Linked DNA regions of Homo sapiens. The protein of the gene in region 1 interacts with the protein of each later gene in a pairwise test. Each region holds a gene or a part of one and is shown in the gene's direction. Other genes may lie near its edges. The genes, in order: CYB5R3, NSG1, ALG8 and VAMP1.

Evidence for each region.
Region 2: the proteins of CYB5R3 (region 1) and NSG1 interact in binary tests that used the Homo sapiens proteins (3 or more experiments, as listed by UniProt).
Region 3: the proteins of CYB5R3 (region 1) and ALG8 interact in binary tests that used the Homo sapiens proteins (3 or more experiments, as listed by UniProt).
Region 4: the proteins of CYB5R3 (region 1) and VAMP1 interact in binary tests that used the Homo sapiens proteins (3 or more experiments, as listed by UniProt).

What each region holds. Positions count from the first base shown.
Region 1 is NC_000022.11:42,618,375-42,625,399, reverse strand, and holds part of CYB5R3 (NADH-cytochrome b5 reductase 3), read left to right. Parts: intron 1-1,511; coding exon 1,512-1,611; intron 1,612-5,454; coding exon 5,455-5,627; 3' UTR 5,628-7,025. UniProt on the Homo sapiens protein: Catalyzes the reduction of two molecules of cytochrome b5 using NADH as the electron donor.
Region 2 is NC_000004.12:4,411,077-4,418,101, forward strand, and holds part of NSG1 (neuronal vesicle trafficking-associated protein 1), read left to right. Parts: intron 1-6,158; coding exon 6,159-6,359; 3' UTR 6,360-7,025.
Region 3 is NC_000011.10:78,122,607-78,129,631, reverse strand, and holds part of ALG8 (dolichyl pyrophosphate Glc1Man9GlcNAc2 alpha-1,3-glucosyltransferase), read left to right. Parts: intron 1-2,192; coding exon of another isoform or gene 2,193-2,195; coding exon 2,196-2,274; intron 2,275-5,417; coding exon 5,418-5,611; intron 5,612-7,025.
Region 4 is NC_000012.12:6,467,670-6,474,983, reverse strand, and holds the start of VAMP1 (vesicle-associated membrane protein 1), read left to right. Parts: upstream 1-4,306; 5' UTR 4,307-4,452; coding exon 4,453-4,454; exon of another isoform or gene 4,455-4,518; intron 4,519-7,314. UniProt on the Homo sapiens protein: Involved in the targeting and/or fusion of transport vesicles to their target membrane.

The sequences.
Region 1 (7,025 bases):
AGTAGCTGCGATTACAGGTGCCCGCCACCACATCCAGCTAATTCTTTATATTTTTAGTAGAGACGGGGTTTCACCATGTTGGCCAGGCTGGTCTCGAACTCATGAGCTCAAGTGATCCACCCACCTCAGCCTCCCAAAGTGCTGAGATTACAGGCATGAGCCACCATGCCTGGCCTAAAAAGAAAGTTACACATAGTTAATAGAAAAAGAAAAGTGAAAAGATGCACACAAAAATCCTAACAGTCATTATTTCTGAAGGGTTTCAGGTACTTTTTCTTCCATATTTTCTGTATTTTTTTCCTTGAGTTCATCTAGCCCAAAGCCTGTCCCTGTCCCTGTCCTCACCCCATTAGGGCAGAAAGGGCCCTCAGCCTCCCACCCTCAGAAACTGGAAAAACTGTTCAACACCCCGTGTTCCCTGGGATGTGTTGAGGCTTATGCCCCTCACACAGCTCATCTGCTGGAGGGGAGCACCAAGGAGCTGGTGATTCCCGTATTCAGGCACCCTTGGGCTACGCGGAGGGTGGGTGCAGTTCCCCAGCCCTGGGAACAGAGGAGTCACGTCTGTGGCTGCCTCCTGGGGAGAGTCCACCCCGCCCTTGCCCAGCCTGGGAGCTCAGTAGCGATTTGTTAGTGGGCAGCCCTTTCTGGGTGGCAGCGCTCTTTGGCCCCTGGTTTCTTTGAGTTCCCTGAGGTCAGGGACACTGCACACTGACCTAAGGAGCCCCTTCTGTCCCTGTGTGACCTGCAAACGCTGGGCAGCAGCCTGTGATGTGATCAGAGGTGGAACGGGGGTGGGGGGCGGGGAGTCGGGTGGGGGATTCAGGGGGAGATCCCTGATAGCCCCTGGAGGGTCCAGGAAGCTTTCCTGGAAGGGATGACGCTGGACTGAGTTCTGTAGGGCTCTGTGACAGCCGGGTGGGGGTGGGGGAGCCGCAGGCCAGCCAGGAGGATGGGTGTGGGCAAGGCCCGAGGGGGCCAGGTTGGGTGGGGAGTGGTGTCTGTACTTCCTGGTTTCTGGAGGTACAACCTGAATGAGATCCCAGAACGCAAAAAGACTTGCCGGAGGGCTGAGGGTGCAAATCCTGAGCCTTCTCACGGGGCCATTGCTTATTGTATGTGTTACACCCGCTCCCGGGCTGACCCCCTGGAGTATCTTGGCACATTTCCCGTCTCTTCCCTTTTTGCTGTCGCGCAGCTTGGCCGCCTTTAGTTTTTTCCATTTTTCCCACTCTCGGGACATCGAGCCCATTTCCTCACAACAGCAGAAGCAGTTGACACACTGAGTTTCTAGCGAACGCCTTCGCCCCTTCAGCAGCAGCTTTGAGGGGCTCCTTAGGCTAGACAAGGAGAGAGGGGTGCCAGGGTGATCTCTGGCCGAGTCCCCTCCTGAAAGCTCCGCAAGCGTGTGGCCCGCAGGCGGGCGCGATGACGAGGCGCGTCTCTGTTGAGTGTCTCCAGGGGCAGTCTGCCACCCATCCTTCCTGACTGCCTGGCCCTGTCCCCTGCAGACCGAGAAGGACATCCTGCTGCGACCTGAGCTGGAGGAACTCAGGAACAAACATTCTGCACGCTTCAAGCTCTGGTACACGCTGGACAGAGCCCCTGAAGGTGAGTGAGGGAGGCCCCTCACTGGGTGGGTGGGAGGTGCCAGCCCACAGTTCACCTTTGCCCAGCTGTTTGTGGCGTTGAGCCTTTGGACGACATCTGGCACTCACTATGGCCCTGTGGGAGGCAGGTGGTGTGGCCCCGTCTCACAGATGAGGAACAAGGGCTCACTGAAGCCACACAGCCGGAAACCACCACAGCCCGGCCTGAAACCCAGGTCCTCGCCTCCAGAGGCAGAGTCCTTTCCCGGGCGCACTGCACTGCCCAGCTGGGCAGAGAAGGCCAGCGTCCCCTCCCTGGGCGGGGCTCACTTCGGGGCAAGTCTCGGGGCAGCGGTGGCGGCTGCTGCTTCCACATCCCAGCGTGCATACTCTCAGGTGCTGCCGAGTTACACCAAGGCCATCTTCTCTCCCATTGTCAGCCCTGGGGAGTGGGCTGGGCCGACGTTGGGGTTACCCTTGTTCCACCTGTCCAGTGGCTGAGCTGCTTGCCAAGGGAGTTGTGGGAGAGCCAAGCTGGAGGCAGCGAGTGAGGGCCGCCCCACCTCCACCACTTGCAGTGAGGTTGCCTCTGGGAGTTAAAGCGCCCTTCCCTTTTCGGCTTCAGATAGAGATGTAGGTATAAGTAATATCTCAATTTCTTCTTTGCTGTAAGAAAAGCAGAGCTCAGCCTTCCCCAGGAAACATTCTGGTGATGTTTAGCTTCAGGGCTGAGAGACTAGGGAGTGGCGGCAACTGCGGTAAATTGGAGCGCATCTGCCTGGTCCGGAGGACACAGCCCCATCCGCCGTGGGCAATCCCGCTGTGGAGTATAGCCCTGTGTGGCCAGGGCCTCTGCTTTTCAAGAGAAGCTGGGGACCTGCATTTTCTGGGAAATTTCTAAGTGTTGGAAGCACCATTTTTGAATACCCGTGTGAGCACCAGTTTGGGGTCTCATGTCCTGCCATCTGCCCCTGCTTTGCCTCCGGCACCTCCTACGGCCCCACAGTTTCCTCAGGACTAATCCATGGTGGGGGGCGCACACCCTCTGCTGATGATCCATGTCAGGGGGTGCATGCCCTCTACTGATGAGGGAGCTCTGTCCACACCACCCTCTGCTCCTCCCAGAAAGGAGCACATGGGCTCTGGGACTTGCACCACCTGGCTAGCACCTAGGAGCTGGGTCACCTGGGCCCATCCCTGAGGGAGCAGCCGCCCTTCTCAGATGACCAGCTTGGGTTCCAGGCCTCCAGGCTGAGAGACCCAGGCCTGGAGGGGGTGGTGGATGTGTGGGTTGTCACCGTGTCCGGCCTCTGGCTGGACCTGCTGTCCTGGGTCAGCCCACCCCCTCCAGGTCGGCTGCTCCACCTGGTATGCTCAGGAAGCCAACCTGACCCCGCAGCTGACCTTCCAGTGGGGGAGGCAGAGGACTAATGGGAGCAGGTTTCTTAGTAAATTATAGCGCGGTTATGGTGGCGGGGTTCCTGTGATGTGGGGGGCCAAGCAGAGCCAGGCAGCGGCTGGAGCGGAGGTCAGCCAGGGCACTGGCTCTGGGAGTCTAGCTGCTGTTTCTCTTCTACTAACGAAAGGAGCAGGCCGGGCGCGGTGGCTCACGTCTGTAATCCCAGCACTTTGGGAGGCCGAGGCAGGCAGATCATGAGGTCAAGAGATCGAGACCATCCTGGCCAACATGGTGAAACTCTGTCTCTACTAAAAATACAAAAATTAGCTGGGCGTGTGTCGCGTGCCTGTAGTCCCAGCTACTCGGAGGCTGAGGCAGGAGAATGGCTTGAACCCGGGAGGCAGAGGTTGCAATGAGCCGAGATGGTGCCACTGCACTCCAGCCTGGCGATAGAGCGAGACTCCGTCTCAAAGAAAAGAGCGTTTTATCCTGTACCCATGTGTCAGTCTAAAGGGAGGAAGTGATAGGCTGCTTTGCTCCTTTCTGACTGCAGTTTCTAATGGCATGGGCGGGGCCAGCTTGCTGCGAGGCAGGGTTTAGCCCCATCCCAATTCCAGATGAGTGATCCAGATCCCTGGTGCGTGCAGGAGCCCCTGCCCTGTGGCCAGAGCGAGGCCTGGTCCCCCAGGGAGGGGCCAGTGCTGACCCCTGGTGGCAACAGGCAGCAGCACCTGCACCACCACCACGGGACAGTTACCTGCCAATGAGAGGAATAGTTGGGTGATCTCCTAGCATTTTTCGTGTACATTTGTTGCCACTGTGACCCACAATTCAAGATTAGTTGAGGTACTGCTGTAGCATTAAATGTAAGCTGAAATTCCAGAGGTTGAGAAAGAAAGTGGTAACAGGCCAGTCTGGCTGTACCGTAGCTAAGCGAAGGATGAGGAGAGCCCCAAGGACTCCAGGCAGGGGCAGTGAGTATTTCCCCCACAGAGCCACTTTCAGGACAGGTACAGGGAAAAATACATTAAGCCATGCACGGTGGCATGCACCTGTAGTCCCAGCTATTCAAAGCTAAGGCAAGAGGATCACATGAGCCCAGGAGCTCCAGGCTGGAGGGCATTATGATCACACCTGTGAATAGCCACTGCCTGCCAGCTGGGGCAACATAGCCAATTCCTGTCTCTTAAAAACACACACACACACACACACACACACACACACACACTAAAAAGAAATCGCTGTGAAATTGAAAGGTGTCTTACATACCTGCACATTTTGTACACTAGCAGTTTATGCCCATGCAGTTTTTACAAGGTACTTTCAGATCCACTTCAGATCCATTGCCCAGCTATAAAACTATTTTCTGTGCCTCGCCTTGTTCCAGAGGGATTTTAGGAGGCTTACAAAGACTCATCTGGTGAGTCAGAGTGGCACAAATGGAAAGTGGGAGTGAAAGAAAAACAAGTGCAGGGCTATAAAATGAATGGAATCAGTACTGGGATTTGTACAAAAACGGACTATAATGTACGCTTGCTGTGAATGGGCCACACGTATCACTCCAGGCTTCCCAGCAGCCAAGGTGAAAAGGGAAATGTGGTCAGTGACTTAGCTCATGGAGTCCATGAGATAAAGAGGACCCCCTTGCTCAGCACAGTAGACTCTTCCTGGTTCCAGGGCAAGCGGGACTGCTTTGGCCCCTCCCCGTCAGGACCTTCACAGCGTGGAGTGTATGCTGTAAACTTGGGCCATCTAGGCAGGGTGTCTGTGTCAGCCAGTGCCAGCCCTCCTGGCCTGAGGCTTCAGCAGCTTTTCTCTTGGTGTTGAGGGCTGTGGGGTGGTTGTTTCTGGTTACTAAGGATAGAGACCAGCCATATCATCGTGGGCGCTCAGGGCTCGAGGGGGCAGGACACACAGCTGTGGATGAGACTCAGTTCCTCATGGGCCGACATTCTTGGGGAGTCACAGTGGGCTCATGGAGGTGGGGGCAGTTAGAGACTGTCACCCTGAGCAGCCTGGGGCAGAGCACCAGCCTGGGGACCTCTGGATCCTGGAAGGTACATCTCAGTCGTGTCCCTGCCTCATTGTGTGATCTTGAGCAACTCAACTCTGGGTCCTCTGGGCCTCAGTTGCCACATCTGTAAAATGGGATTCATATTCCCCGCCCTGTCCACCCACTGGGTTGTTCCAAGGGACACCCCGGAGGCCAAATGGAAGCAAAAGGCTTTGCAAACTGTAAAGTGCAGTCAGGGGAACCATGATGGGCTTTGTACACTGGTTTCAGGCTGCAGGGCCTGAGGCCATAGGCTTGAGTCAGGGTTGGGGGCAGGGGGTCCTGGTGACAGTTTGCTGGGATCAGCCTCTCCATTCTTCAGCATTTAAGGAATTCACCGCCTAGGGTTGGTCGGTCAGCAGGTTGGTGACCACACAGCCACACGTCAGCTTACCTGGTCTCTCACCCCACAGCCTGGGACTACGGCCAGGGCTTCGTGAATGAGGAGATGATCCGGGACCACCTTCCACCCCCAGAGGAGGAGCCGCTGGTGCTGATGTGTGGCCCCCCACCCATGATCCAGTACGCCTGCCTTCCCAACCTGGACCACGTGGGCCACCCCACGGAGCGCTGCTTCGTCTTCTGAGGGCCGGGCACGGTCACACGGCCACCCGCCCCGCGCACCCCACGCCCTGTTCACGCTCACCCAGTCACCTCCCCACATCGCACACTGGGGCCCCGGGTTCAGCCTGGCCTGCCCGTGCCCTGGTGAATCACCTGGCTGAGCAGTTCCCCTGGAGCCCCTTCGGGAGCAGGGCTGTGTCCCAGATGGGCCACGGCTGAGCCTTCAGAGTACGTCCTGCCTGGCACTTACTGGTCCTTACCAGAGACGCCCAGCCCCATCCCTGTCCTCATGACCCCTCGTCCACCCCCCACACACACTATAAGGCTGAGGGCTGCCAGCAGCCCCGTCTGCCCACCATTCCCGGCCGTGGACCATAGTCGGGATGTCAGCAGACACACATGGGCAGCCCAAAGCTGCAGGTGCCAGGGCCCACCCCAGCCTCGCCTGTCACCCCCACTCCCGCCTCAGGGCCAGGCCCAGGCCTCACCACCTGACGCTGCATGAGACATTGACACCAGAAAGCCCTCTTGGGGGCACTGCTCCCTACCCCAGGGCCCTGGCCAGCCGGGAGCTTGGCTCTCCTCTGGCTAGAGTGGGAAGAGGGGGCTGGCCATGGGGCCCTCCCAGAACCTCAGCATTTCCTTCCAGCCCATCCAAACACTGAGGCAGCCTTGGGGAACCCCGAGCTGGGGGGTTGGCAGCCCACTGCACCGCCTCAGGGTTTTGGGGTCCTGGGCTGGGGCCACCATCCCTGATGGCAGAACTCCCACAACCACATGTATTTATTCCTCTGTCCTAAACCGTCCCCTCCTTCCCTCACCCCCAGCACAGGGGGATTCTGAGCAGTGCCTCTTGTCTGAGGGACATATCAGTGACCTCGACGTTGCCTTTAGACTACAGTTGTGTTAGCCTCTTGCGTATTGGCTTTTTCAGAGTCATTTATGAGCAGAAAAAAAAAAAGTAAAACTTTGCTAATATTAACCCTTCTCTAGCTCCTCGAGGGTCTGTGACCTGCAACACAAGGGGTGGGGTCAGGAAAGGGCTGGGGAAGACCTAGCATTTTTTTTTTCTTTTTTTTTTTTTTTTGAGACGGAGTCTCCCTTTGTCACCCAGGCTGGAGTGGCATGATCTCAGCTCACTACAACCTCCACCTCTCGGGTTCAAGCGATTCTCCTGCCTCAGCCTCCCGAGTAGCTGGGACTAAAAGTGCCCACCACCACACCCAGCTAGTTTTTGTATTTTTTTTTTTTTTTTTTTGAGACGGAGTCTCGCTCTGTCGCCCAGGCTGGAGTGCAGTGGCGGGATCTCGGCTCACTGCAAGCTCCGCCTCCCGGGTTCACGCCATTCTCCTGCCTCAGCCTCCCAAGTAGCTGGGACTACAGGCGCCCGCCACTACGCCCGGCTAATTTTTTGTATTTT
Region 2 (7,025 bases), on another chromosome or scaffold:
AACTCCTGACCTCAGGTGATCCACCCACCTCGGCCTCCCAAAGTGCTGAGATTACAGGCGTGAGCCACCACACTCAGCCAATAAACTTTTAAAATGTAAGTTTTTGACTCTTTTGTAATAACACTTAGCTTAAAGCTCAAACATCTTGCACAACTGTATATTATTTTTCTACATGTGCTTTTTCTATTAAAAAATTTTTTAATTCTTTTTTTACTTCCAACACATTTTTGTTAAAGCTAAGGACACAGACACACACATTAGCTAGGCCTGCACAGGGTCAGGATCCACAGTATCACCGCCTTCTGCCTCCACACCCTGTCCCACTGGAAGGTCTTCAGGAGCAGTGACAGGCACAGGGCTGTCATCTCTTAGGATAACAATGCCAGGCCAGGTGCAGTGGCTCACGCCTGTAATCCCAGCACTTTGGGAGGCCTAGGTGGGTGGATCACCTGAGGTCAGGAGTTCAAGACCAGTCTGGCCAACATGGTGAAACACCGTCTCTACTAAAAATACAAAAATTAGCCAGGCATGGTGGCGGGTGCCTGTAATCCCAGCTACTCAGGAGGCTGAGGCAGGAGAATCGCTTGAACCCAGAAGGCGGAGGTTGCAGTGAGCTGAGATCATGCCACTGCACTCCAGCCTGGGCAACAGAGGGAGACTCCGTCTAAAAACAAAACAAAACAAAACAAAACAAAACAAAACAAAACAAAACAAAACATTGCCTTCTTCCAGAATCTCTCTTGGAGGAGCTCCCTGAAGCTCTTTTAGAGTTAACTTTTTTTTTTTAATAACTAGGCATGCACTCTAAAATACTGATTAAAAAGTATAGTACGGTAACATAAACAAGTAACATACGCGTTTATTGTCACTGTCAAGTATTATGTTCTGTATGTAATTGTATGTGCAAGACGTTTATACAGCTGACAGTGCAGGGGGTGTGTGTATACCAGCACCTCCGCAAAGTGAGGAGTGTGTTGTGTTCCGTCTACACGGTGGCTGCGAGGTCACCAGGCGACAGGAGGTTTCAGCTCCGTGACAGTCTTATGGGGCCACCATGGCATGTGGTCCATCGTTGACCCAAATGCTGTTATGCCGCGTGTGGCTGTAAAACGCACTTGCTGGTTCCCCACAGGGAGGAGGGGGTGGCTAAAACTGCCTTCCCTATCCTGCAAGCCCAAGTCCCGCTGGATACCTGGCCTGGGTGGGAGATGACCCAGGAGATGAAGCCCCAGTCCTGTGTCCGGCTGCAGATGAGACTGGCGGCCACAATGGAAGGGGCCTGGCACCTTTTGTTTAAAAGGCGCTCCAGGTGATTCCCATCCACAGCCAGCCTTGGGAATTGAGAGTCCCCTGATAAGTTGTTCTGGAGTGATGTCCTGTGGGACTTTGGCATTTTCCACTAGCATCTAATGAGGGGGTGTCCTTTCCGGAGAAGGCACCTAGGAAGGCCAGGGAGCTGCTGGTCTGTATCCAGCTGCCCTTGGCCAAAGCTGGAGAAAGGAGAGGCGTGAGCTCATGAAGTCCCCTTGACCTCCTCCCTCCATATTTGTGCGTGTGTTTGTCACACACCAACGCTAGGCAGCTTGTGTGGGGCTTTTACACCTGTTGCTCACGGAATCCATACACTCGGTAGCTGTGGGCTCCCGTTATCCATACACTCAGTAGCTGGCTCTGAACTTCCCAGAGTCAGTGTGAGATGCTCATCTCCAGGGCTTGGCACTGCTGAGATTAAAATAAAGCAGGAGAAGCCAACTGTTTCTAGCACTGAGCACGTGCACAGGGAAGCCTGGCTTGGCAGCTGTCACTGGGTAGCTTGGGTTTGGGTTTCATTTAGGTTTTGTTTTTTGCTGATATGAGGACGCAGAGAGTCCTTACGCGATTAGCAGGAAAGGCTGGAATTCACGTTGTCCAGCCCAAGTCCCTTTTTCTCCTTGCACATCATGCTGTCCTTCAGGCTCCCGACATTCAGCTCTTCCTCCCTTGGGCAGGCATGTACATGGCACCCACCCCGTGCCAGCAGCTCTTGCTATTGTTCTAGGCGCTGGAACACAGCCGAGAGCCAGTCAGGTACAGCCCCCTGCCTTCACGAGGCTCTTACATTCTCAAATGAACGGTGAGGAAGTCAGTCGTACACTGAATGTGAAGGCTATAGACAGACAGGAAAGAGGGCCCAGGGGTTGGGCATGGGCATGTGGGCGGTAGTTTCTAGAAGGATGGTCCACATTGGAGGAGCGGGTCTCCAGGAGGTGAGCCAGGGAGCTTGCGGGTCTTGGGGGAGTGTGCCCAGCCAAGGAAAGCCCCCACCCTTTCACTCATGTTTTATTCAGCAAGCCCCGTCCACGCCCTAGGCTGGGGCTGGGAGAGTTTGAGTCTGTTTTGGAGGCTGAGAGGACACCAGGGCTTTACAACAAGCAGAAGCGGAGGGTGCGGGCTTCAGGGAACGAGGGCAGTGCTGGCCCTGACCCAGTGGGAAGGGGTTTGTGATGGTAGAGGAGCACAGAGGGAGCAGCGGGCAGTGGGGACGTGCTGGTGGGGGTGTGCTGGTGGGGGGCTAGCCACAGGCACAGGGAGGCGGCAGAGGATGAACCAGCTTACGGCCAGAGCGGGTGCATCCTGAGTGCCAGGCACAGGCCCCTGGAGGAGGGGGAAGTGATAGGGTGACCTCTTGGGTCACCTGGGGAGGCTGGAGATTGGAAGGGAGAGACGGGGCAGTGAGATGACCAAGGAGACTGCTGCAGTGGCTGAGGGAAGAGAAGACTGGGGCGCTGGGGATGGAGGGGAGACTGCAGACTGGAGAACTGATTTAATCTGGGAGGCAGAGGGGTAAAAGGAAAGGGCCTGGTGCAGAGCTAGTTACTGAGGGAGGCCGATGTCATGGAGAGGGAGCACGGGCAGGCCCAGGAGCTGGCCCTGAGCCGGAGAGAGGACAGCAGAGGACAGCTTCCTGGGGGCCGGAAGTCCCCACCGAAACTGGCTACTTACAAATAACTGAGGCCAGTGGCTTCACCAGCTGCCCTGGAGCTTCCTTCCTGGCTCATCCTCTCTGAGCCTGGAGCAGGTTCCCCACAGGGAGGAGGGGGTGGCTAAAACTGCCTTCCCTATCCTGCAAGCCCAAGTCCCGCTGGATACCTGGCCTGGGTGGGAGATGACCCAGGAGATGAAGCCCCAGTCCTGTGTCCGGCTGCAGATGAGACTGGCGGCCACAATGGAAGGGGCCTGGCACCTTTTGTTTAAAAGGCGCTCCAGGTGATTCCCATCCACAGCCAGCCTTGGGAATTGAGAGTCCCCTGATAAGTTGTTCTGGAGTGATGTCCTGTGGGACTTTGGCATTTTCCACTAGCATCTAATGAGGGGGTGTCCTTTCCGGAGAAGGCACCTAGGAAGGCCAGGGAGCTGCTGGTCTGTATCCAGCTGCCCTTGGCCGAAGCTGGAGAAAGGAGAGGCATGAGCTCATGAAGTCCCCTTGACCTCTTCCCTCCATATTTGTGCGTGTGTTTGTCACACACCAACGCTAGGCAGCTTGTGTGGGACTTTTACACCTGTTGCTCACAGAATGCATCCAGAAGCCCTTTGAGGTGGATGCTGTTATATCCCCATTTTACCAGTGGTTAGAGGGTGTACAGAGGCTCTTCGTGGAGCCCAAGGTCACGCCCTTCAGTTCACTTGGTACAGTCAGCATGTACTAAGTACCTCCTACTATGTGCACACTGGACTCGACACCTTGAGGGCAGGGACCTCAGAGCCCCAGGCAGTGGGGAGGGGACAGGCTTTTTCTGGACAGCCACTCCCAGTGGCCCCAAGCTGAGGCATATCGTGAGGAGGGTGAAAAAGGCAGACGTGGCCCGAGAGGACACTAGGTTTCTACCTCTGCCTTTAAAAAAAAACAACAACAACATGAAATTACTACATGTTTTATAAAAAAGTTTTAAACATAATGGGGAAAGTGCCCCAAATCCCACATTTTTATACTGGCTTTTCCCTTTATATTGGCCATTCTTTTTTTTCATGTAGACAGGTTACACGTTCTTGCTATGTTGCCCAGGCTGGTCTCGAACTCTTGGGTTTGCTCAAGTGATCCACCCTCAGCCTCCCAAAGTGCTGGGATTATAGGCATGAGCCATCGCACCCGGACCTTAGTGGCTACTCTTTTCCAGTGCTGACTGAGTGCTGGGTGCTGGGAACACACTTACGTAGCTACCTCAGTCCTCCCGTGCCCCACAAGACAGGTCCGTCATCAGCTTCACTTCACAGGTGAGGGAATGAGGCCCAGAGAAGTTGGGGAACCTCCCCAAGCTCCTCCAAGTGCAGGCCCAGCTGAGTCACGCTCCCCTCAAGGCACACACCCCACAGGTGAGGGTGGCTCTGTATGAGATGGGTATGGGGGGCGGCAGGAGCCTCTCAGAAAGCCTTCCCTGGCCCATGTGGGCTCACGGCAAGGCCTCTGCATTCTGCTTCCGTTGGGAAGCCCTTCACCCCCTGGGGTGCTCGCCACCATGGGCACCAAGGTGCCTCCCCAGCCTTGCCTTTGGGCAGCCACGTTGTCTGGGAGGCATCTGGGGACTCCATCTGTCCTTCTCCCTGGGCGGGGCACCTGTAGGGCAGGGCCGTTTCTGAGCCATCTCGTATGCCAGCCCTGAGCGGGGCCGCCACTCCACAGGTGTTGGCCGCATCAGGTCTTGCAGGACTCTGCTGGGTGCCGAGGTGGGAGGGAAGAGGGGAACCCTTGGTCCGTTTCCCTGAGGGATGACGAGCAGCAGATGGAGAGGACAGCGTGAAGGGGCGTGGCGGTGAGGCTGGAGGGGAGTTTGTCTGGCCTGCAGAGCCTCCTTCCTGATGCACGCGCTGCTGGTCTGAATGGGCTGTTTGTTCTGTAGCGTGTCAGGTGCTTCCCGACGTCCTGGTGGGACTGAGATCAAGACGCTGTTGATAAAAGGGCTGTACTTCAGTGGTGTCTTTTGGCTTTCTTTTCTGTCCACACTGTGACCTGGGGCACATCCTGGCTTCTTTACTTGAGCCACTGTGCATTGACTTGAGTCCTCAGCAACACGGTGGTGTGACTCATTGGCCGCATTTTATAGGTGAGGGACCTGAGATTGAGAGAGAAAACACTCCGCACGTGAACTCAGCTGGTACGGTGGGCCTGGCTCCAAAGCTTCCCTTCTCCTGTAGCGCCGCCCTCCTGCCAGTGGCAGCCCCTGAACACTGGATGCGGGGCAGTGTTGGTGAGAAGCACATTCCATTTGTCATTTCTCTTTTGAAAATAGCTCTTTGTTCACAAGGGCCTTGCAGGTATAAAGTATTCTCATCTTTAGACTTCAGGGTTCAATGAGCTGGTAACAGAGAATGGATTCCCCATGGGGGCTGGGTGGCATCAGGAGCTGATCCCTGTACACCTGCCTTAAGCCCGTGGAGGTGAGCCACTCACCTCAAGGACAGGCTGCAGCCACAGCTGCCAAAACAGGGAAAACGCCCCCGGCCCTGCCTGAACCACAGGGCCTGGCCTGCAGGGAATGGGGGTGTGGATTTGCTGCCAGAATCCGCTTCCTGATAAACCTCTGTAAGACCCAAGTGCTGTCTCGCACTCCCCCAACCCACGGCCCCTCCCTACCCCCTCGCCATCTTCCCAGCCCCTAGTCATGACCACCTAGTGGCTCTGTGTGCCTCTTCTGACTCCCGCCCCAAGGCCCCTCTCTGCTCTGGTTTCCTTTGCCTTGAGTGCTGCCCCTCCCTCATCTCACCTAGCTAAGGTCTGCTGAGAACCTAGCTCAAGGGAAGCTCTTCTCACTTCCCTTCCGTCCTCATTTGAATTGGTTGTTTTGGGATATTTCATAAGTTGTTGTTTTCCAATTGATTAAAAATGACAACTAGTGCAAGATCTTCAGTGAAGTAAGGCCTGCTGTCCCATTACACTGGCACCCTTGGAGCCCAAGTGCCCATCTGCCATGGCACTCACCAGCCAGTCTATTAAGAATAATCAAGGCCAGGCTTCCCCTGTGCTGTGCTCTCTCAGGGCAAGATCCATGCCCGTTTTTGCTCATCACTGTATCTATTCCTCCAAGCTCAGGGAAGGTGCTCAGTAACTGTTGGCTGCCAACTGGAGACACACTGGCACCCCCTCTTGCACCGACGCGTGCTCTCAGTGGCCTCTTGTCTTTCAGAACACCCAGTGCATCCCAGAAGGCTTGGAGAGCTACTACGCGGAGCAAGACTCCAGTGCCCGGGAGAAATTTTACACAGTCATAAACCACTACAACCTGGCCAAGCAGAGCATCACGCGCTCCGTATCGCCCTGGATGTCAGTTCTGTCAGAAGAGAAGCTGTCCGAGCAGGAGACTGAAGCGGCTGAGAAGTCAGCTTAGCGGGATGGGCAAGTTCCTTACAATGTGTCACTTGCAAATAACAAAGGGACTTTGAGGGACATTTCATTAAATATAATTACTGATACTTTAGAGGTTACTCATTTACGGTGCAATTGCTTCTGTTTGCTAATGCTGCTTTGCAAATAAAACTTGCTGCCGACCACCCACGGGCATAAAATCAAGTGCATTTCAGCATTGCCTAAAGAGCTCTGACACCACTTTTCATGTTAAGATCTTCATTTAGCTCCTTTACTGGGATTTATTGGATGCTGTAAAAAAATAAATTTACACTGGATATGCGAAGGGTTTGGATCTCAGATAAATGCATTTTGTGGAATTGATTTTCTGAACCGACCCTGCTGTCTGCAAACCTTCCTCCATAGCCATATCTAGAGTGATCTCTCGCTGTGCTAAGAGCAAGCCTACTTCGCATTTCTTCCTCGGCCATCAGCGGGTAACAGTGCTGACTGCTGCCAAGGTGCACTGTAGTAAGTAAGTGGCATAGAGAACGAGGAAAAAGACCCCCCCACCCCTCCCTGTGCTGACTCCTGAGTCGGGGTGGGACGGCCCTGCAATGTGGCAGGCTCGGTGTGGATTGACTACTCCCTCCCCTCTGACTCTGGCATCTTGGTAAGGAGGGAGGGGCACCACCCATCTGGGTGGAGA
Region 3 (7,025 bases), on another chromosome or scaffold:
TGAATATTATTATGAAAATAGTACATATTTCAAACTCCTTGAAAGGGTCTCCCTGTGAGTCCCTGAATCACACTTTGAGAACTGCTGCTCTACAGTATTCCATTGTGTGAAAACACCACAATTTATTTAGCTATTCTGCTGTTTGTGGACATTTATCTCCACTTTTTACCTGTTGCAAATAGTTTTACTTTGCACATTTTTTTTTTTTTTTTGAGACGGAGTCTTGCTCTGTCGCCCAGGCTGGAGTGCAGTGGCGCGATCTCAGCTCACTGCAAGCTCCGCCTCCTGGGTTCATGCCATTCTCCTGCCTCAACCTCCTGAGTAGCTGGGACTACAGGCGCCCACCACCACACCCAGCTAATTTTTTATATTTTTACTAGAGATGGGGTTTCACCATGTTAGCCAGGATGGTCTTGATCTCCTGACCTCGTGATCCGCCTGCCTCAGCCTCCCAAAGTGCTGGAATTACAGGTGTGAGCCACCGCGCCCGGCCCCACTTTGCACATTCTTACAGTACGTGTCTTTTAGTGAGCATACTATGCATTTCTGTTGGGTATACGTACTTAGACTTGGGATGGATGGGTCATCAATTCAGTTCTGAGTGGAGATTTTGAAATATCTGTAGGAAATTCAAGTGAGATTGTTAACAGGAAGTTGGAGGTGTCTGTCTCCACAACTTAGTAAAGAAGCCAATGTTGCATATTGAAATTTGGGAGTAGGCCAGGCATGGTGGCTCATGCCTGTAATCCCAGCACTTTGGGAGGCCGAGGCAGGCTGATCACGAGGTCAGGAGATCAAGACCATCCTGGCCAACACAGTAAAACCCCATCTCTACTAAAATACAAAAAAAAAAATTAGCCAGGCGTGGTGCCGCGCACCTGTAGTCCCAGCTACTTGGGTGGCTGGGGCAGGGGAGTCGTTTGAACCTGGGAGACGGAGTTTGCAGTGAGCCAAGATCGCACTACTGCACTCCAGCCTGGCAACAGAGCGAGACTCCGTCTCCAAAAAAAAAAAAAAAAGTAATTTGGGAGTCATCATTATACAATTGACAGTGGAACCAGAAAGTTTGCATAAGATTGTCCAGAGCAGAATAAGTTGCGTAAAAAGGGGACCAAGAACTGAACCTAGGGGAATATCAACATGTCCCTGATGAATATAGGAAGGGAAAGCCATGACTGAGAAAGAAGGGTTGGCTGGAGGTAGGAGAAAGTTGTCATTGTGGAAAGGTTGTGTAAAATGTTGGAAAGGGTAAATTGGGCTTTGCTGTGGAACTCATTGTTCACTTTGGTGAGTGGATATTCAGCAAGAATGTATTGAGCTTGTCCATGCGTCAGGTACTGTTCTAAATGTGGAGGGGAGGTACAGCAGTGGACAAACAGGAAAAGATTTTTTCTAAAGATAGGTGATCCTTAGATATGTATAGTGATGGGAAGAGGGAGAATTTGGAGACATGGGAAAGGCAAAGCAAGGATCTTTTCCCACCTTCTCTGTCAGATGAACTCCTCATCCTTATGTCTTGGTATATGAGGCCTTTTTCAGGTAATGAATTTTGTTAGAATTGTTTGTGAGCAAGAGGAAGTCACTTCTGAGCAAAGGCCTGAGGGCCGCCTGTAAGAAAAAGTTTGGGCTAGGCCGGGCGTGGTGGCTCACGCCTGTAATCCCAGCACTTTGGGAGACTGAGGCAGGTGGATCACCTGAGGTCAGGAGTTTGAGACCAGCCTGGCCAACATGGCGAAACCCCACCTCTACTAAAAATTAGCCAGGATTGGTGGTACATGCCTGTAGTCTCAGCTGCTCGGGAGGCTGAGACAGGAGACTCGCGTGAACCCGGGGGGCGGCAGTTGCAGTGAGCTGAGATGGGTCCACTACACTCCAGCCTGGGTGACAGAAGGAGACTCCGCCTCAAAAAAAAAAAAAAAGAAAAGAAAAAGAGAAAGTCTGGGCTTCTTGTCAGCCCTTTAGGTAGTTCTGAGACCCTTTTCACTGACTTGTAGATTGCTCAACAACTTTCTAGAAGATCTGACCTCCAGATAAATGAGGTTTTACAGGATTATGTAATGTCTATTTGTGTCTCTATAGGACAGTGAGCTGTGACAGCTTAGGGAATGTCAGTCCATTTAAAAGCATAACTATGGGAATTAGAAATTGATAAATATTGCAAAATCTCATTTTATTTATCTAATTGTTTTGAGTAGCCATTCCACAGATTTTGAAGTACACCGAAACTGGCTTGCTATCACTCACAGTTTGCCAATATCACAGTGGTATTATGAGGTAAGTTTTAATTTTCACCTTTTTTTTTTTAAGATTCATCTATAAACTAGGTAAATATTACTGATATTAAAAATGTTTTCTGGCTGGGTGCGGTGGCTCACGCTTGTAATCCCAGCACTTTGGGAGGCCAAGGCGGGCAGATCATGAGGTCAGGGGTTGGAGACCAGCCTGGCCAACACAGTGAAACCCTGTCTCTACTAAAAATACAAAAATTAGCTGGGTGTGGTGGTGGGCACCTGTAATCCCAGCTACTCAGGAGCTGAGGCAGGAAAATCACTTGAACCTGGGAGGCGGAGGTTGCAGTGAGCCGAGATCGCGCCACTGCACTCCAGCCTGGGTGACAGAGTGAGACTCTGTCTCAAAAAAAAAAAAATTTTCTTGCAATCATAGATCTAATTAATCTTTATAAAAATTGTGGTCTCTTCTCAGTTCTGTCCTCTTGCACTACTAGGGAATCCCCTTACTTCAAAATGAGTTTCCCAGTCTATAAATTGGGAGGTATAATATCTACCACACTTTTTGAAAGAATAGTGGACTGGGAAAGAGGAAGAACTGGATTCTTAGGCCTGGCTCTGCCACTATCTAGTTACATAGAGAAAAGATACTTCATGTCTCTGGGCCTTAGTGTCTCATCTGGCACATGAGGATTTGGAGTGAATTATTTCTAAGATCCTGTCTGTTCCTAATGTTTTGTGATTTTGTGAGGAAAGGAATAATCAAATGTGATGTGTAGACATCAGGTAATATACAAACCATTCTCTCATATTGTTTATAAAAACTATGTCTGTATTTTTATTTCTTTTTCTTTTCCTTTTTTTTTTTTTTGAGACAGAGTCTCGCTCTTGTCACCCAGGCTGGAGTGCAGTGGCACAATCTCAGCTCACTGCAACCTCCGCCTCCCGGGTTCAAGCGATTCTCCTGCCTCGGCCTCCCAAGTAGCTGGGATTACAGGCGCCCGCCACCATGCCCCAGTTAATTTTTGTATTTTTAGTAAAGAGGGGGTTTCCCCATGTTGGCCAGGCTGGTCTCGAACTCCGGACCTCAGGTGATCCACCCACCTTGGCCTCCCAAACTGCTGGGATTACAGGCGTGAGCCACTGCACCCAGCTTGTATTTTTGTTTCTGGTATGAATTACTAAACTGTGTGTAATACTTTATGAAAAACAGACATTACTCCAGAAATTTCTTCTTTTTTTTTTGAGACGGAGTCTCGCTCTGTTGCCCAGGCTGGAGTGCAGTGGCGCGATCTCTGCTCACTGCAAGCTCCGCCTCCCAGGTTCACGCCATTCTCCTGCCTCAGCCTCCTGAGTAGCTGGGACTACAGGCGCCCGCCACCATGCCAGGCTAATTTTTTGTATTTTTAGTAGAGACGGGGTTTCACCATATTAGCCAGGATGGTCTCGATCTCCTGACCTTGTGATCTGCCCGCCTCGGCCTCCCAAAGTGCTGGGATTACAGGCGTGAGCCACTGCGCCCGGCCCAGAAATTTCTTGATGAAAAGCAGTACTCTGCTGACAGGGAGTTGGATTTTGTTTTGTTTTCTTTTCTTTTGAGACGAAGTCTCACTCTCACCCAGGCCGGAGTGCAATGGCACGATCTCGGCTGACTGGCGACCTCTGCCTCCTGGGTTCAAGTGATTCTCCTGCCTTTAGCCTCCTGAGTAAGCGATTCTCCTGCCTTAGCCTCCTGAGTAGCTGGGATTACAGGCACCCACTACCATGCCCAGGAAATTTTTTTTTTTTTTTTGTATTTTTAGTAGAGACAGGGTTTCACCACGTTGGTCAGGCTGGTTTTGAACTCCTGACCTCAGGTGATCCACCTGCCTCGGCCTTCCAAAGTGCTGGGATTACAGGTGTGAGCCACTATGCCCGGCCCAGGGAGTTTTTTTTAAGGCAAATTTTTTGCAAGTTTCCTATGAGTTTCGATACCATATATAGTATTTTATATGTATATATAAAATGGAATACCATAACCCATGAGGTAGATACTACTATCCCTGTTGTATAGGTGCAAAAAGTGAGACTTAGGCTGGGCGCGGTGGCTCACGCCTGTAATCCCAGCACTTTGGGAGGCCGAAGTGGGCGGATCACGAAGTCAGGAGATCGAGACCGTCCTGGCTAACATGGTGAAACCCCGTCTCTACTAAAAATACAAAAAATTAGCCGGGTGTGGTGGCGGGCTCCTGTAGTCCCAGCTACTCGGGAGGCTGAGGCAGGAGAATGGTGTGAACCCGGGAGGCGGAGCTTACAGTGAGCCAAGATCGCGCCACTGCACTCCAGCCTGGGTGACAGAGCAAGACTCCATCTCAAAAAAAAAAAGAAAAAGAAAACTGAGAGAGAAATCTAACAAAATATACTATTCTAAAGCTTGTATATTTTCATATGATTTCTGTTTTCATTTACTCATTAGCAACTGTTCCTTTAACTAGTGGTTATTTTATCCCAAGCAATATGTCAGGCACTTACTAAATGCTGAGGATACAAAATGATAAAGGATAGTTTCTATTCTCCAGGATCATATAACTTACTGAAACAAAATATAATAGCATTTGTGTATTATTTTGTTGTTTATAAATATATTTCATATGTATTATCTCATTTAATCTTCATAATACCTCATTTTACAAATAGGGAAATTGTGTCTCTAAGACAGAATTTGAACCTAAGTTAGTGAATTATTTGTTATTTAGATGAGTAGAACCATGTCATAACCAAGTTTATCATCTCCAGGTTTCAAATTAATTTCCTTTAAGTGTAGTTGACTCTATTTAAGGAAATTGAAGACCATGTTAAATAATTTACAAGACAGGTTTTAGTGTTCTGTTCAGTCTTACATAGGAATTGTTCTATTAATTTAGGGCATATTTTAAGTGCAACAGCATTTCACTGTGATTTTTGTTCGTTTGTTTTTAATTAAAAATAGAGACAGGGTTTTACCATGTTGCCCAGACTGGTCTTGAACTCCTGGGCTCAAGCGATCTGCCTGCCTTGTCCTCCCAAAGTGCTGGGGTTACAGGTGTGAGCTACCACGCCCAGCCTTATTGTGCTGTTTTAAAGACCAGAGAATGAAAAATTTTAAATCGTTGCACCATCTTTGTTTATTCAGTTATTTAGGATATGTCTGATCTTCTATTTTTATCACAGGCAACTTCAGAGTGGACGTTGGATTACCCCCCTTTCTTTGCATGGTTTGAGTATATCCTGTCACATGTTGCCAAATATTTTGATCAAGAAATGCTGAATGTCCATAATTTGAATTACTCCAGCTCAAGGACCTTACTTTTCCAGAGATTTTCCGTCATCTTTATGGATGTACTCTTTGTGTATGCTGTCCGTGAGTAAGTCTGGAGCATGTCATTTTGTATGGAAGGTATTGAAAAAATAGTACAGTGTTAAGTAGTATTAACTTACTCCCAATTTAGGAGGAACAAAGTTTATATGATAGCAAATGCTAAAACAATGAAAAATTGTATTGTGCTTTAAACTACATGTTTAAAGCACTCTAGCTGAATCTTGTGGAAGAAATGGGGATAAGGTGGAGTTACAAGGCAGAGGTAGAACAAGAGATTATGAATGTTGTGAAAAGAAGTAGTCCCAAGTATAGTTCTAGGGCCATTTCTCCCACCCAGAATAGCTCCATATGTTTTTCTTTGCTTCCTTGCAGCAGGCCGCCAGAGGCTTCCATCACCTACCCTATCTTAGGGTATGCACACAGTACATGCACAGTAGCGCACACGTATGGATTGTGCTAACCACCAAAGTCTGCTTTTACGGAGCTTTCATTCTAGTAAACTCAAGAAATTTCACTGAGTGCTTTTAGTTGTTTCCATATACTTTCCTTCATGAAGACTCTTTGTTATTTTAAGTTATGCTTATATTTTAAATTTTTATGTTTTACAACTTTTACTTATAAGTTAATTTTAAGTATTGAATACACATATATAGAATGTCTTGCACAGTGACTTCCAAGTACTAAGTTTCAGTTAATGTCAGTTTCCATTCTTTCCTAATTCTTTTTTTTCTTTTTTTTTTTTTTTTTTTTTCTTTTTTTTCCCTGAGATGGAATCTTGCTCTGTCGCCCAGGCTAGAGTATTGTGGCGCGATCTCGGCTCACTGCAACTGCCTCTCGGGTTCAAGCAGTTCTCCTGCCTCAGCCTCCCAAGTAGCTTGGATTACAGGTGCACACCACCATGGCAGGCTAATTTTTGTATTTTTAGTAGAGACAGGGTTTCACCATGTTGGCCAGGCTGGTCTTGAACTCCTGACCTCGTGATCCACCCGCCTCGGCCTCCCAAAGTGCTGGGATTACAGGCATGAGCCGCTGCACCGACCTCATTCTTTCCTAACTCTTAAGCTCGCTGGTGTGATTGTGACAGAACAGTGACTGGTGTTCATTCAGTGACCCTTGTCATAAATGGATCGTTTCTGTTTGTGAGGCCCTCTACACTGAACCCTTGCCCCACTCAGTAAAGAGTCCCTTGGGAATGTCTTTAACCCTTGCGCATTCTCATTGAATAATCCTGTTTGAAACCCTTCCTTTCAATCTGTTTATGACCTGGCAAGAGTTGAAAGGGAAGGTAATTTTTAATATACTCTTTTTAACTCAAAATGTTTGAATTCAAGCTTCCAGGGGAAGAGTATACAAGCACAAAGGGAGAGGAAATAGAATTCATTTCCATCTGCAAAGTAGAGGGAATAGTTAAAAAGATTGTTGAAAGGCCAGGCATAGTGTCTCATGCCTTTAATCCCAGC
Region 4 (7,314 bases), on another chromosome or scaffold:
GTACCCAGGGACACAAACACTGCGGAAGGCCGCAGGGTCCTCTGCCTAGGAAAACCAGAGACCTTTGTTCACTTGTTTATCTGCTGACCTTCCCTCCACTATTGTCCTATGACCCTGCCAAATTCCCCTCTGCGAGAAACACCCAAGAATGATCAATAAAAAAAAAAAGAAAATGGCCAAAAGACATGAACCAACATTTCATCAAATAGGATAATATATACAAGGCAAACACTTTAAAAGATATTTGATATCATTAGCCATCAGTGAAATAAGAATTAAAACCACAATGATAGCACTGAACACATATTAGAATGGTTAAAATAAGAAAAATACAGCTGGGCATGATGCCTATAGTCCTAGCTACTTGGGAAGCTGAAGTGGGAGAATTGCTTGAGCTCAGGAGTTTAAGACCAGCCTGGGCAACACAGGCAAAGGCAGTTTCTTATAAAACTAGAGATGCAATTACCTTACTGCCCAAGCATTGCACTCAGGCATTTATCCCAGAGAAATGAGAATTTATGTTCACACAAAACCTGTATGAAAGTTCACAGCAACTTTATTTGTAATAGCCCAGTGCTGAAATCACTCCAAATGTCCTTCAGCAGGTAAATGGTTAAATGTACCACGGAATATTAATCAGTGGTGAAAACTAATGATACACACAATAACTTGGATGGTTGAAAAAGTAATGATACACACAATAACTTGGATGAATGAAAAAAGCCAATCTTGAAAGGTTACGTGATATAGAAAAAAGCATGACTACATTTACATAAGGCTCTTGAAATAAAGTTACAGAGATGGAGAACAAATTAGTGTTGCTAAGGTTTAGGGATGGCGGTGGGTTGGAATATAAAGGGGTAGCACATGGGAGCCTTGCAGTAATGTGAAAATGCTGTATCCTAACTGTGGTTGTGGTTACACAAATCTACACATGATACAATTGCATAAAACCACTCAAACACACACGAACACAAAAAGAAGTGTTTGGTGGTACATGCCAGTTTGGAAAATCGGTGAAATTTGAATAAACTCTGGATTTTGCTAATGATAATTTCCTGGTTTTAATATTTTAATAATTTTAAACTGTATTTATACAAGATGTTACTGTTGGGGGAACTGGGTAAAGGGGTTTAGGGGAACCTCCCTGTATTGTATTTTTTTTTTTTGGCCACCTTATATGAATCTATAATTACTTTAAAATAAAAAGTTTAAGGCCGGGCGCGGTGGCTCACGCCTGTAATCCCAGCACTTTGGGAAGCCGAGGCGGGTGGATCATGAGGTCAGGAGATCGAGACCATCCTGGCTAACACTGTGAAACCCTGTCTCTACTAAAAATACAAAAAATTAGCCGGGCGTGGTGGCGGGTGCCTGTAGTCCCAGCTACTCAGGAGGCTGAGGCAGGAGAATGGCGTGAACCCAGGAGGTGGGGCTTGCAGTGAACCGAGATAGCGCCACTGCACTCCAGCGTGGGCGACAGAGGGAGACTCCGTCTCAAAAAAAAAAAAAAAAAGTTTAAAAAATGCCACCCCCTCAACCCCGTTTTTTTGAGACAGGGTCTCACTCTGTTGCCCAGGTTGGAGTGCAATGGTGTGATCATGGCTCACTGCTTTCTTGACCTCCTCAGGCTCAGGTAATCCTCCCACCTCAGCCTCCCAAGTAGTTGGAACTACAGGTGTGTGCCACAATACCCAGCTATATTTTTTTGTATCTATTTCTTGTAGAGACAGGATTTCACCATGTTGTCCAGGCTAGTCTTGAACTCCTGGGCTCAAGTGATCCTCCTGCTTTGGCCTCCCAAAATGCTGGGATTATAGGCGTGAGTCACCATTCAATGATTTTAAGTTTTTTTTCAGGGGAAAGTTGGTGGGAATAAATAGGCATTCATGCTGCCAGAAATATTTCCTCCCATTCTTTTTTCTTTTCTTTTTCTTTCTTTCTTTCTTTTTTTTTTTTTTTTTGAGACAGTCTCATTCTGTTGCCCAGGTTGGAGTGCAGTGGCAAGATCTCGGCTTACTGCAGCCTCCGCCTCCCGGGTTCAAGTGATCCTCCTGCCTCAGTCTCCCGAGTAGCTGGGACTACAGGCGTCCATGCCCAGCTAATTTTTGTATTTTTAGTAGAGACGGGATTTTGCTGCGTTAGCCAGGTTGGTCTTGAACTCCTGGCTTCAAGTGATCCGCCCTCCTTGGCCTCCCACATTGCTGGGATTACAGGTGTGAGTTACTGCGCCTGGCCCTTTTTCTTTTCTTTTGGAGATAGGGTCTCATTTTGTCACCCAGGTGGGAGTGCAGTGGCGTGATCTCGGCTCACTGCAACCGGAACATCTGGGCTCAAGCTGTCCTTCCGCCTCAGCCCCCCAAATAGCTGGGACTACGGGAGTGAGCCACCACGCCCGGCCCCATTCTTTTTGTCTTTGGGGGCTTATAATTTTTTGCAAATTTTCCCAAATTGTCATTTTTCCCCCTAACTTGCCATTTTGATGTGGTTTCAGGAGGAGAATGGGATAAACACATATGATGAATGCATTATGTTTCCAAGTGCAATTGTTTCCTTAAGAAGACTTGTGACATTTGGATAGATAACTTTGGTGGACTTTTTAGAGAATAGATGTAAAGGATGGCAAGACTGGAAGCAGAATGATGTATCATTGATCTTAGGAGGCACTTGGGTTTTTTGTGTGTGCTTGTTTGTTTGTTTTTTTGCATTTCAATATCTTCTAATTGGGATGTTTCACTTTAGCTATTAGTCAGACAGCAGTCAAACTATATTTGTCATACCTGCTCATGAGCATCAAAGCTTGCCAAATGGGTGTCTGAGGCTTGGAAGAAAACTCTAGAGCCTGGAGAGGAACACTCTTAGGAAATGCTGCATCACCAAAGCCCTTATGAAATGCACAGAGGACTACATTGCGTGGAAATTAGTGGACATCCAAGACTGAGTCAAAAAAGTGAATCATTAACAATCAGTCTCTGTGAAGTTTTAGGGATAGTTACCATGTTATTGTTTTCTATTTCCCTTTTTATGCATGCACAAGAGTGAAATATAGAAATCGGTATGTATATAAACCCATATTTTCAATACATGTAAAACAAAAATGCTAAGTGGTAAGGAAAGCATTTGTCACAGATAATTTGCAACCTTTTTTCTTTTTTTTTTTGAAACAGGGTCTTGCTCTGTTGCCCAGGCTGGAGTGCAGTGGCGTGATCTCGGCTCACTGCAACCGTCGGCTCCCGGCTTCAAGCGATTCTCTTATCTCAGCCTCACGAGTAGCTGGGATTACAGGCGCCCGCCACCATGCCTGGCTGTTTTGTATTTTTAGTAGAGACAGAGGTTTCGCCATGTTGGCCAGGCTGGTCTCGAACTCCTGATCTCAGGTAATCTGCCTGACTCGGCCTCCCAAAGTGCTGGGATTACAGGTGTGAGCCACTGCGCCCGGCCTTGTAACCTTTTTTCTTAGCGGGACATAAAATAATGGTGAATTTTCCAACTGATGGAGTCCAGGAAAGGGATAATAGTGAGCAGAGGGGAGATAATCACTGGAATGCCAAGAAGGAAAAATCAACTCGATTTGGCAGATTACTGGGGGAGAGGTAAAGGTGAAGGGGAGGAAATCTAGGATGGTTTCCACGTTTCTGGTCTGGGCAACTGAGTCGATGTGGTAACCTCGACTGGAGCAGGTTTGGGAGGGAGTTCAATTTAGGAAGGCTATGTTGAAAGAAACGAATGAACGAAAGCTTCGTGCTTGCTTTGGTGGGACGGAACCCCGCATCCGGTATCTGGCACCAGGAGCTTGTGGCTGTGTCTCGAGGCTCCTGCACCCTCTCAGAGCGTTAGTTAGAGGCGGGGCGGTGGTGCGGAGCGAGGGCCAGAGCAGGGCACCAGGGCTGGGCGCGCACCAGGAAGCCGCCGCCTCCAGCTGAATGCGCGAGTCCCGGCGCGGGGTGGGGCAGGGGCGGGCACGGTCTTCAGTAACTGCCTAGCGATTGGTTGGGAGGCACCACAAATGCCTAACAAACTGCTGAAGCGCCCTCCGAAGGGACAGACCTCATCTCCACCCCGCCCCGTCCCTCCGCCAGACTGGAGCGCAAACTATGGTCGCATTGATCACTGAAGGATCCTCACAGCAACCGCTCCTTTCCGGAGTCGGATGAGAGGAGAGTTGTGACTGGCAATTGGCAGGGGCGGGGCGGGCTAGGCCTGTAGCGCTGGGCGACCGTCCTGGGCATGGATTGGGCCGCGGGGTTGTCACCGTTATCCGGGAGGCGTGGTCAGCACTAATAAAGGCGGAGGCCGGCGCGGCAGCTGCAGTAAGTTCCAGCGCAGCTAGACCGCGGGGTAGTCGGCGCGAGGCGGAGCTTGGCAGTTCCGTCCACTTCAGCCGCAGCGTCCCTCACCGGGTGTCTCGCCGCAGCCTCCGGAGAGGAACAGACCCTCACTCTCTCTGTCAGAAAAATGTGAGTTGACTCTGGTGTGGGGGCTCGGCACCTCCTTGACAACTCTCGCCCCAAGCTCCCGATTCTGCGGGACGGAAAATGGCGCAATGCAGCAGCTGCAGCAACGCGGGGAACTACCACCGCGCGCCGCTTCCGGACCGGGCCACCCCCAGGGAGGGGGGCCAGCACCCCATTCTCGCACCAGCCACAGCTAGCACCCCACGGGCGGGGCAGGGGCGCAGGGGTCCCACAATCATTGCACCCTCTCCTCTCGTCTGAGTGGCGCCTCATTCTGGTTTTGGTATAGTGGAGACTCGGAGAGGGCGGGGGCTGGGGGTGGTGGATGGAGACAACTGGGCAGGGGACTCGAAAGGTATTTCTGTCATCTGGCTAAATCACTACTCAGCGCCTCAGGAAAGACAGTCATGGGTGCAACTGCCAGTTGGTAACTTATGTTGCCCTACAATCTCTGGATTTGTTTACCCCTCACCCAAAGTGTGATGTCTAGCCCCCCTCATGGCAGTGAGCAAAGCTGCAGAAACTTATCTGCCAGTTCTCTGGCACCAGGTGAGCAGCTCAGAAAGACTCAAGGGGTAGTGGGATAGTGGCCTGTCATCCCAAGCGGCTGTTCATACCAAGGCCATTCGTATAGGAGATGTTTTTCTATCACCGAGTCTTACCAAATAGTTGGAGGAGAAATAGGGAGAGCTGAGCTTTCCCCCTTTCCTCCAACACACACAGTTTAGTCTCCAGCAGTCTTCAACATCACCCCCTTCGCATGATCTTGAGGGAAAACTACGGCTAAACAAACGAAGTACTTCTCTGTCAAGACCTCAATATGTCTAATACAGATTTTTCTTTCTGATTACTACCCTGGCCTGGTCCTAGATGTATTTATGTTGCTTCTCTAAGTGACAAAAAAGGGAAAGATTTACTTGTGTTACATAAGGGTTGTAATTATCCCTAGATATTTTACTGTTGAGTGTTTCCAACTCCCAACAAGTAGTAAGTGAAATTGGCCTTGCAAATACTTCATAGCCATTTCACTTTTTCTTTTTGATTTCTATGGTTTTAACCAGATATGAGTGTTCTATGCATTTTGGGCAAGCCGTAGAATTCCAGTTGTTTTCATTTTGGGGAGGGGGCTTCCAGATAGTATCTACGTGGGATGAACAGAAGGCAACAGAAAAATCGTGGTGGCTAGCGGGGCATCACGAGGTCTCTGACCTTAATCTTGTCATTGGTGCTACCATCCTGGACTGCTTCCAACACTGGCTGCTACCTACTCATTGAATTTTCTGCCTTAAGTCGAGAGCTAGATTGCTTAGCTAGCTCAGTGGCAGGACAAGAGTCTTGTGGCTCCCATGACTTTGTGTCTATCTTTGCTTTACCTCCTTTGCACCTTAGAGGGAAATGGAAAAGTGATTCTTCAAATGGGGAATGAGTCAGGTGTAATCTGCTACCATAGCCTCTCTGAGGAGTTATTCTCTATCTTTTTAGACTAAAAGAAATTCACTTAATCAAGGAGAATGAGCTTCTGGGTATTAGTTCTATTGTAATTAGTCAAATAATTTCCTTTTAGGTGACTTTGTGGTTTCATTTTTGTTGCATTTACTCTTGGACTGCTCCTGTGAAGTATGTTTGGTGAGATTCTGCTTCTGTTTGAGGAGTTCTTACTGTAATTTCTATTCTCCATCAAATTTGAGAGATCTCCCCCCTGCCTGTGGGTGCTTCCTTGGCCGAGAACATCTCATGACTTAGGTTATACTTCTGGGAATTCTTTAGGAGGTGAGTTTAGCCTCCATGTTTTGGGACATGGAGAGGAGTTTGTCTTGAAGACCACACACTAACTTTGAGTGGTACAGAATGAGAGAACATTCTCTGTGTGTATAGTACAGTAAACCAAGATCTCTCTTTGGGATGTAAGTAACCAAGGGAGTCATCTGAGACTGTCAAATCCAGAAAAGGAAGGGACAGAATGTCTATAATGCATGCACATTGAGGACAATTTCTAGCATTTTTGCTTCCTGTCTATGCTCTTGGAACAGTTTCCATAACTAATGTAATTGCTTTGGGCCCCAGATTCTATCTAAGTGAAACCCCCATTTTCTCTGCCAAAAACAAAGCAAACAAACAGTCCTGACTCACTCCACCTACATAGACTTTGCCTTTGGTGATTTTCCAAGCTGCCCTTATGGCAGCCCTGATTTCCTCATCTTGTGTGAAGCATAACCAATAACTGGGCATATAAACCAATAACCATAACCAATAACTTGAATATAAAAAGGGGTGAGCTGACAGACATTACAGTGTACAGCCTCCCTCCTGGCTCCCTTCACGGACTGGCATTGAGTGTCTGTGGCTTTTCCAGGCGCACGGTGCAAGCTACCAGTGGATCTACCATTCTGGGGTCTGGAGAATGGTGACCTTTTTCTCATAGCTCCACTAGGCAGTGTTCCAGTGGGGACTCTGTGTGGGGGCTCCAACCCCACATGTCCCTTCTGTACTACACTAGCAGAGGTTCTCCATGAGGGCCCTGCCCTTGCAGCAAACTTTTGCCTGGACATCCAGGCGTTTCCATACATCTTCTGAAGTCTAGACGGAGGTTCCCGAACCTCAGTTCTTGCCTTCTGTGCATCTGCAGGCTCAACACCATGTGGAAGCTGCCAAGGCTTGGGGCTTCCACCCTCTGAAGCCACGGCCCGAGCCCTGCATTGGCCCCTCTCAGCCACAGTGGGAGCGGCTGGGACACAGGGCACTAAGTCCCTAGGCTGCACACAGCATGGGGACCCTGGGCCTGGCCCACAAAATAACTTTTTCCTCCTGGGCCTCCAGGCCTGTGATGGGAGGGGCTGCTATGAAGGCTTCTGACATGGCCTGG